Regions from separate parts of the Homo sapiens genome. Here region 1 is reported to be linked to region 2. Evidence: microRNA targets listed by miRTarBase, many of them from high-throughput screens and not tested one by one. Region 2 holds a microRNA gene; the other region holds the end of a gene's coding sequence.

Evidence for each region. Region 2 holds the annotated microRNA hsa-miR-561-3p (CAAAGUUUAAGAUCCUUGAAGU, at 2,066-2,087, shown strand). A microRNA usually pairs through its seed, bases 2 to 8, with sites in the 3' UTR of a target mRNA and lowers its output. Matches are read on the target gene's strand: a 7mer-m8 pairs with bases 2 to 8, a 7mer-A1 pairs with bases 2 to 7 and ends in A, and an 8mer does both.
Region 1: miRTarBase lists CNOT6L as a target of hsa-miR-561-3p. Seed matches in the 3' UTR shown: 7mer-m8 at 2,124-2,130 and 7mer-m8 at 3,051-3,057.

What each region holds. Positions count from the first base shown.
Region 1 is chr4:77,716,628-77,721,131 of GRCh38, reverse strand. CNOT6L (CCR4-NOT transcription complex subunit 6 like) reads left to right here. Exons shown (of 12, transcript NM_144571.3): 12 at 489-4,504. The coding sequence ends at 701. Among named protein-coding and RNA genes, the nearest start is that of CNOT6L, 100 kb to the left of the region's middle.
Region 2 is chr2:188,295,487-188,299,990 of GRCh38, forward strand. It overlaps MIR561 (microRNA 561), which reads left to right and starts at 2,006; the gene lies at 2,006-2,102. All of the region lies in intron 1 of GULP1 (GULP PTB domain containing engulfment adaptor 1), which reads left to right. RefSeq lists enhancers at 3,126-4,325, 3,456-3,750.

The DNA of each region.
Region 1 (4,504 bases), not on the chromosome of region 2:
ATTAGCAAATCCATAAACATGGTTTACTATAGCTTCAGTCAGGTGTGTTTGGATATCTTGATATGCAAATAATTGAAAATAATACCGTTAACTATGTATGTGCTCATATAAATATTCTTATTTTCTACTTATTATAGCCAATAGGATTAGTACAGGCTCCATTATATTTATACTGATATGTTGGATTTCACTAAACCAAGCAGGCCAATTCTAAAGATGACTAGACATAATTTAATGTGTTTAGCTTCTCAAATTATCACTTACACACAAATGGAAGGATTTATAATTCCAATAGCATGCTGTGTTTCCCTATTGAGCCACCTTTATTTCATGTAATACCCATTGAATATTTGAGCCTTATTTGACCCACTATCAAGACAACAGGTACCAGAAGAAAGGGTAGTCAGTTTTTTGGTTTTTATAAATTATGGATTGTTCTTTATATATCTTGAATTTTTCTTTTTTTCCTATTCCCAATCTCTTTCCAGGGCGTGATTGACTACATTTTCTATTCCAAGACTCATATGAACGTGCTTGGTGTCCTGGGGCCTTTAGATCCTCAATGGCTGGTTGAGAACAACATCACTGGGTGTCCACACCCTCACATCCCTTCAGACCACTTCTCACTGTTAACACAACTTGAACTCCACCCTCCACTCCTGCCTCTTGTCAATGGTGTTCACTTGCCTAATCGGAGGTAGTGGAGTACTGCCCCGCCAAGACGGGGATCTGTTGCTATGGACCTGTACAGTTGTAAATCAAAGTATGTAGGAGTGAAGTATGGCCATCCTTAAGCTGCTTCTTCAGGTTTCTTTCATTATGTGTTTGCTGTAAGACTTTGTACATTTTTGTGCATATTGGTATCATTTGGCAGTAGGGCTGGAACCAAAGTATTACTCTCTTTACAAAATTTTAATTTAACATGTTTTTAAATTGGACCTTCTTTATATTGTATTAACAGCCAGCATTCAAAATTGATAAATTACCAATTTGAGGCCCAATAACAGTGTATTTGTTTTTCCAAAACAAATACTTTCTTTTGAATGGTTTCAGTGAGCCAACCATTTTATAAAAGGCAATTTTTAAAAACTATAAATACAGTATTTTAAACTGAATGATGATATGCCTTCCAGGGAAAACCTTGAATTTTTCCTTTATAACTGACTTTTGGATTCCAAAGTCATTTGCACATTAACAGAGTACTTAAATTTACTTGTTCAGTCCATAAACTATGATATAGCCTCTATACATGGTAAGAAAATTTGAAAAATTAAAGATGGTTGCACAGTATACTTTTATAATCCAGCATGTAACACCACATGACAATTTGTTGGCCAAATGCTGGTTTGGAGTTTTTTTGAGGAATCACTTTGGTTTTTTTGTCCTTTATATATAACCTTATTGGAAGTATTAATTCTAAGCCTGTCTCTCAAGTTTATTTATAGAGAAAAAGTAAGTAATCTGTATTGCCACATACCTTGAAAATAGAATGTGGTATGTTTAGGATGCCCACGGAATGAATTTTTCCTTATTCCAATTCAACCTTCTGTCTGGTTGTGCCAGGAAAACAGATGTTATATGACCTATGTCATTTTTGCCATTATAGTCAAATGTTAAAAGAAGAAAAAAGTCTGCTGAATAAAAAGGCCTTGATCAAAGTTTCAGATGGGGAAAATCATACAGATATTTTATGTGTTTCCAACATAGATTATGTGGCTGTTGGTTTCTTGAGATGACAGTGCAAAGGATTTGGGAGAGAGAACAAATTTGGGGCAGTAGTTGAAAACGTTGGGTCATTTTCCTGACTCTAGCTGCCAAATGGCCATCATATGCTTTTAATCTTTGTTTCAGTTGTCTGTCAGGGTTGAATTAAGAAGCTACTGGTTTATTCCCAATTGTTGATGCCTTTAGGTATGTTGGAATCTTTTTTTTGCCTAGGAGGGGCCAGTTGAAAATCTGTGACTCAAGAGGCAGTGAACAGAATACTGTTTTCTGGGGAAAAATTGGTTGGCTACTTGATGTTAATTATGGCACAGTAACAGGAAAAGGTTGTGTCTGTGTTTTTAAGTTTTTCTTTATTCTGCTTTTTTGCTGCTATAAGAGTTTTCTGAAATTTATATTTTAAACTTTTCATGCACTTTACTGTTTCTAGTCTCAAAATGTGATATTTTTAATAAACAAGAAATTTTCCATTATGTGAATGAAATTTTAAAAGACAATAGCCTATATTTGTGTCTCACTAATATATAAAGTATAGGTCAAATTTAAATTATTTAATTAGTTTTAAATATACACAATTTGTCTCCTCTTTCAAACCTGACATCTTCGGCTGTTTTATTAGTCTTAAATGATGCATTTACTTTGGTCATTTTATGCTAATTTCTTCCATAGTAAATTAATCAGGCTATATAAGGTAATATTTCCCCAGAGGGTAATTTTAGTGGGACGAGGGTGGTGGGATGATGTCATATCATACATGGGATTGCATCAGAAGGGTTCTGTAAAGCCTGAACTCCCTTTTAAAAGTGCCTAGTGATAGAGGCGTTGTTTGTCATCTATTATAATTGGAATGTCATTGTAGTTCAGTGAATTTTGATGTAAATAAAATATCTTTTAAAAATGTTAAAGTACCAGGATAAACAAACAAAAAGAAACAACCCTTAAGATGACAGATTTTCCTCAACATGCAGGTTTCCCTTCTTATATACCTCAAGTATCCAACATCTAGCCATGCAAATTGATTACCTGAAGCATAGTACTGGAAAGTAGAATAGCATGAAAAACTTAATTTTGTGGACATTACCTTTTTTTGTAATCAGCTACTGTATGTTTTATTTTAGATCTTTTGTTTTGGGTGGGTTTTCTGCTCTGGAGGTATATGCACTAACAAAACATTTTCCTCCTTTCATATACGCATGTTAATTAGCAATGTGAGCAATATTTCCTACCATACTTCACTCCCAATATTTTTTGAGATGTTTGTATAAAATGGAATTTAAAGTTCACTTATGATTGTATATGAACCACAGAGGAGCCCATTTATTAATAAAAAACTTTTTTAATAGTTAAATGTAGAGGGAAAAAATAAAAAAAAATGGGAAACATTGTAAACAGCTTAAGTTTATTTTGTGTATGATCGAGGCACTCTGTTGCAGGAAGGTGTGTAATTGGGTTCTCTCTGCTTCAAATGCGCTCTTTCAAACCATTCATTATCCTGTGTATTTTTAATGTGGTTTTAGTAAATGTTGGTAGTAGCTCTGTTGAAGTAGGTAATTGTGTTATGTTTTGGGTGGTACACACTTGGGGCATGGTAACCCAAATTTCATGTGCACGGTTTCCCTTTAGCCCACTGCCCAAATTTCACATACCCTTCACCCTTTGTTCCCTTTGTAAAAGGAGTGGTATCTGTTTTGAGCTGCCAATTCAGATGATCAGAAATGCTGCTTTCCTCAGCATTGTCTTGTTAAACCGCATGCCATTTGGAACTTTGGCAGTGAGAAGCCAAAAGGAAGAGGTGAATGACATATATATATATATATTCAATGAAAGTAAAATATATATGCTCATATACTTTCTAGTTATCAGAATGAGTTAAGCTTTATGCCATTGGGCTGCTGCATATTTTAATCAGAAGATAAAAGAAAATCTGGGCATTTTTAGAATGTGATACATGTTTTTTTAAAACTGTTAAATATTATTTCGATATTTGTCTAAGAACCGGAATGTTCTTAAAATTTACTAAAACAGTATTGTTTGAGGAAGAGAAAACTGTACTGTTTGCCATTATTACAGTCATACAAGTGCATGTCAAGTCACCCACTCTCTCAGGCATCAGTATCCACCTCATAGCTTTACACATTTTGATGGGGAATATTGCAGCATCCTCAGGCCTGACATCTGGGAAAGGCTCAGATCCACCTACTGCTCCTTGCTCGTTGATTTTGTTTTAAAATATTGTGCCTGGTGTCAACTTTTAAGCAACAGCACTGCCTAAAAGCAAGCAGAGAACAGAATCCCAGCACCATTCTATAGGCAACTTTTTAGAATTCAGATATAGTAAATCTGTTCCAGATTTATGATGTTTTATGTAAAAAAAATTTTGTATAATAACATAGCTGAATATTTTTGTTTCATTTCTTTGATGTAAGGCGTGTGAACATTCGTTTGAATATCACATGTTGAAGTCAGGTATGGCACAATGGGTTCTGAGACCAGCTTTTCCTCCCCTCCCATTTGCCTTGTTCCAAGCTCTTTCTTTTCAAATTACTTTTCTGATATTCATAGGCAGGTATTTAATTTTACTAATTAGCATCCTGTGTGAATGTATTAAAGAAGCCACTGTGTTTTAGTGTAGTTGGCAAAAATATAAAAGCTGTTTCTTATTTGCCCCTATTTTTTTGGTGTCTTAAAGTTATATATTAAATCACAGAGAAGCAAGGGAGAAAGTTGAAAGATATCTAAGGCTCATATCACTTGATTCTATGGTAGATTATATTAGAATTGA
Region 2 (4,504 bases):
GTTGATTCATTATGATCATTGTGAAATATTTACTTTTTAGTGTGACATGTCAATTAGTAAAATATACTACATATTTTTATGGTTCATTGTACTGTGCTACAGTCATGGATGTTTAACTTAACTCTTTTTCGGGTGAACAGATCAACTTATTAGAGAAAACAGAATAAGTATAGATAAATTGTTTAAAGGATAAAGTCTTTTGCTAAAATACCTAGTCATAGCTTTTATTTTTAGACTTTATATTATAATTAATAGTGAATCTGTAAAAAGCACGTGTATATGGGATATAGTAGTTGGGTTGAAACTTACACTATGGGTATCCTTGAACAAGTGGCTGTTTGAGGATATATTAGGGTAATTTTAATATAAAATGTCAAATTTTACCTTTCATTTTAAATTAGAAATCCTTAAAATTCTTATTTCCATTGATGAATGGTAGGTGATTTTAATTTAAATTTTACTTAGCAGAGTGATGTATTTGTGATTCAATTCGCGATATTGCAATTTGTTTTCTAAAACCTCTAAAGAATAAAAAAAGTTATTTTATTTCAGTATAATAATGAATTCAAAGATAGTTACAGAAGCTAACTGCATAACTGCCATGAGCCCTGGTCCCTAAACGTATTAGAGGCTGGTGGATCTAATATTGTTTGCCTTAATGCATTTAGAGATCAGGAAACTTAAGCTTTTTCCCATAAGAGCATAAAATATACTCAGATTGGAAGAGGAAAAAATGGTATAACTTTGAATGGAGAAATCGCTTCACTTTCAAATACTGGGGATATGAAATTGAAATCAGGCCTTTATTTTTAAAGAGAATGGCTAAAAGTCATTGTTCCAGAGTAAGACTTAGAAAACAATGCTTATACTGTTTTCAGGCCCTTGTTATTTGCGAGTTTTTTGTTTGTTTTATGCCTAAGAAATGTTTTCAGCCACTCTAATGATGCTTACCATGCATGATTGTCATCAGAGGACAGTTAATTGACTCAAATATTGTGTGGGATAGTAAGTGTCAATTTTCTGTTTACATTGAAATGGTATAGTTATGGCGAATTTGAAATTAGTTTTGTCTTTCAGTGTAGTATACTTAAAAATAGTTTTGAAAAGGCTGCCCTAATTTGCACACATAATATGAATAAGTAAGTTAACTTATATAGAAATTAAGATTTTCAGTATATTTTGTGCTAAATTGCAAAGATTAATATGGCTTTTTAAAGGAAGTTTTGAATAGCCTTGTATGTATTTTCTAGGATGCAACTAAGAGAGTGCATCTAGATATCAATACCTGCCTTTATTTCATGTTTGTTTTTTGCTATTAACATTATATAAATGTACCTATACATCAGCTGTATCATATACCTCCTGATGAAGAAGTTCAGAATAGACCTTAGAAACTTCCATATTTTGGGGGACTACTTTCTCTCTGTCTCTCTGTCTCTGTCGTTCTCTCTCTCTTTGTCTGTCTCTCTCTCTGTCTCCATTTCTTTCTCCCTTTCTGTGTGTGCATACTTATGATACATATATATTCTTTGATGTTTCTCTATTTGTGCTATAGTTTTTCTGTAGGGAAAAATAGCTTCAGTTAATTGATATTTTTGAGCCCAATTTTAACAACTAATTAAAAATGTTTCCCAGATAAGTATTGCTAGAAATCCTAGAAATCCTTTTTTTTTTCTTTTTTCCAAATTCTAAAAGTGTTTTTAGACTTCTATTTATACCTCCGAAAGAAGAGAAAAATAGTTGGCAAGATCTTCTACCTACATTCTTTGTTGTAGGCTCTAATGATGGCATACTCATGGAAGCCCTTTCTACTCTTCTTAAGTAGAACACAAGCACATGTACAGTTAACTACTGTAAGAAGGTAAATTCACTACTTAGAAGTTAGATACTACTGATAAGTTTATCAGGTATTGTGAAGTGAGAATTTTATACAAATGTAGTGTTTTCCTGGTATGGTACAGCTTTTTCTTAATATTAGGTGTTACAGTTGATCCATTTCTTGAAACTTCATCCACCAGTCCTCCAGGAACATCAAGGATCTTAAACTTTGCCAGAGCTACAAAGGCAAAGTTTAAGATCCTTGAAGTTCCTGGGGGAACCATGGATGGCTATCCTTATTTCTATAAGAGAGGAGACTGAATACTGTGGGCTCAGTCTTCAGTCTACCCTCTTATAGAAATAAAGACAATCATTTCAGAGCATACATAATCTACTGACTGAATCATTAATGATTTGCCTGTTTATAGCTGTATAATATTTCATGAGGTGATAACTATTGTTCTCATTTGGTTTGTATTTAAATTAGATAATATCAATTTTAAATATAATTTTAGCCAAAAAAAATCAAACAGAACATTTGTAGTATGGTAGCAAACGTGCAAATTTGGGATAAAAAATTGAAATAAGAGAATAAATGTGATTTTAGCTTCTCAATTTTTTTCATAGCCATTTATAACCATCAAGAGATACCATGTTTTAAGTAAAATTTTAATAGCAAATAGGTTCATTTACCCAGATTTCAACCTAGGTGAATTAAAACATAGGGTTATAAGTACTAATGAGAGTTTTAAGAAACAGTATTTTGTAAAGTATCTTTGAAGGTCAAACTACATGTTATGCTCTGTAATTTATTTTATTTTTGTCTGCTTTGAGGAACTGTGTAGTAATAAAGGACTTTGGTTGATGATCAAACTCTCCTTTTACTTCCTTGATGATGTGTGTTATTATAGTCATAAAGATGTCCAATAACATAAACACTGAACTTTACTAGTAGTGCAAATAAATACAGAGAAAGTTTGGCTGATTAGAAAGAACAATTGCATAACTGAATTAATTTCAAAGCAATTTATCTCTATGCTGAATATGTTAATTAAATATAATTAGAGGGTGTTTATGGATTGTAGTATCTCAGAATATAGTTTGAGAGAATTTTTAAGGAGTCACATTTGAGTAAACAAATTTTATTTGAAATTACGTAAATGCAATATGAAATGGCAAAAGTCTATTGGTATTTTAGATTTATAAAATAGCATTGTTTTAGAGTAACAATGGCTATTGCTTTAAATTTTTATGAATTATTTTTTCTGTTTTAATGCATCACCATGACTGGATATGTAGGAGAAAAACCTTTAAGCTTCTTAGCAGTAAATCAGTAAGAGGTCTCATATTGCTAATGTCTTTAGTCATTTTAAAGGAAGAACTACTAAATTTGTAAAATCTGAGTTATCATAGGTTTAGCTGATTACATTAAGCAGACTAGGAAATTCATGATCAATTTGGAAAAATAAAATTTTCTAGAGTAGTACAGATGAGGTTTTAGAGAACAACATTTTAGACTTGATGTTGTTGGAAGTAAATGCTCGGTGCTGCCAAGTGAATATAGCACTCAGGCAAAAGTTTGCTCAGCAAGGCAATTTACTTCTATAAAAGGGTGCCTCTCACGGATGGAGCAATGGCAAGAGCACACCAGACAAGGGAGGAGAAGGGGATCTTACTATTAATGCAGCTAGTCCCTACTGCTTGTTTTTCCCCTATTGGGTAGGGTTGGACCGCACAGTCTAAGATAATTCCAACTGGCTATTTTAAAGACAGCAGGGGTATGAGCTGGAGTGGCGGGGTGAGAAGCTTTGGTGGGAAGGACGGTTACAGAGCAGGTGACCAAGGATGACTAAGGACAGAGCAGGTGACTAAGGAGGGAGCAGGTGACTAAGGATGACTAAGGACAGAGCAGGTGACTAAGGAGGGAGCAGGTGACTAAGGATGACTAAGGACAGAGCAGGTGATAGAGGCTAGGAGGGGGTTGTTTACTAAAGCTAGGGACAAGGAGATGTAAAGAACGAGGAAGTTAAACTTTCAAATGGAAAACAAAGAACAGGGAAGCTCAATATACTAACATATTGGTTCTTTGAAGAGGAATTTACTGTATCCTACAATGTAATGAATCTTTCTTTGGGACTTTCTTATTCAATGAGATTTTGTCTTTATTCAGTGATTTTCCATTCACTTAATATACATTTGAAGTCTTTCCCCCCTTCTCATTCTGGGAAATATAACTGTGTTTAAACTGTGCATCTGCAAATAAAGAGATTCTGATATGATACAGTTGAATTTAATAAATACTTATCAAATAACACTTGTTCTTTTTGTAGTTGTGTGATTAGTAGGTGACAGAGACCTCCTCTTATTAACTTAAATAGAAGTTGGTATTTCTATATAATTCTGAGGTACAGTGCAGAGGATGTTGAGGAAGGAGGAGTGGGGAAAGCGGGTATTCACCAGTGTGAAGGGAAGCAGTGTATGGAAAGAATGTGTGCAGGTGATTCTTAGACCAAGTCACAGAGGATGAGGATGAGTTGGGCAGGCATTGAAAAGGGACAGTGTCAGTCAGAGCAGGTGGGATAGGCAAGAAGGCATGAAGCCATGAATGTGGTTTAGGAGAACAACTTGTGGATTTTACAGTTATAGAGATGTTCCTCCTTTATGTTTCCATGTTCATGAACTAACC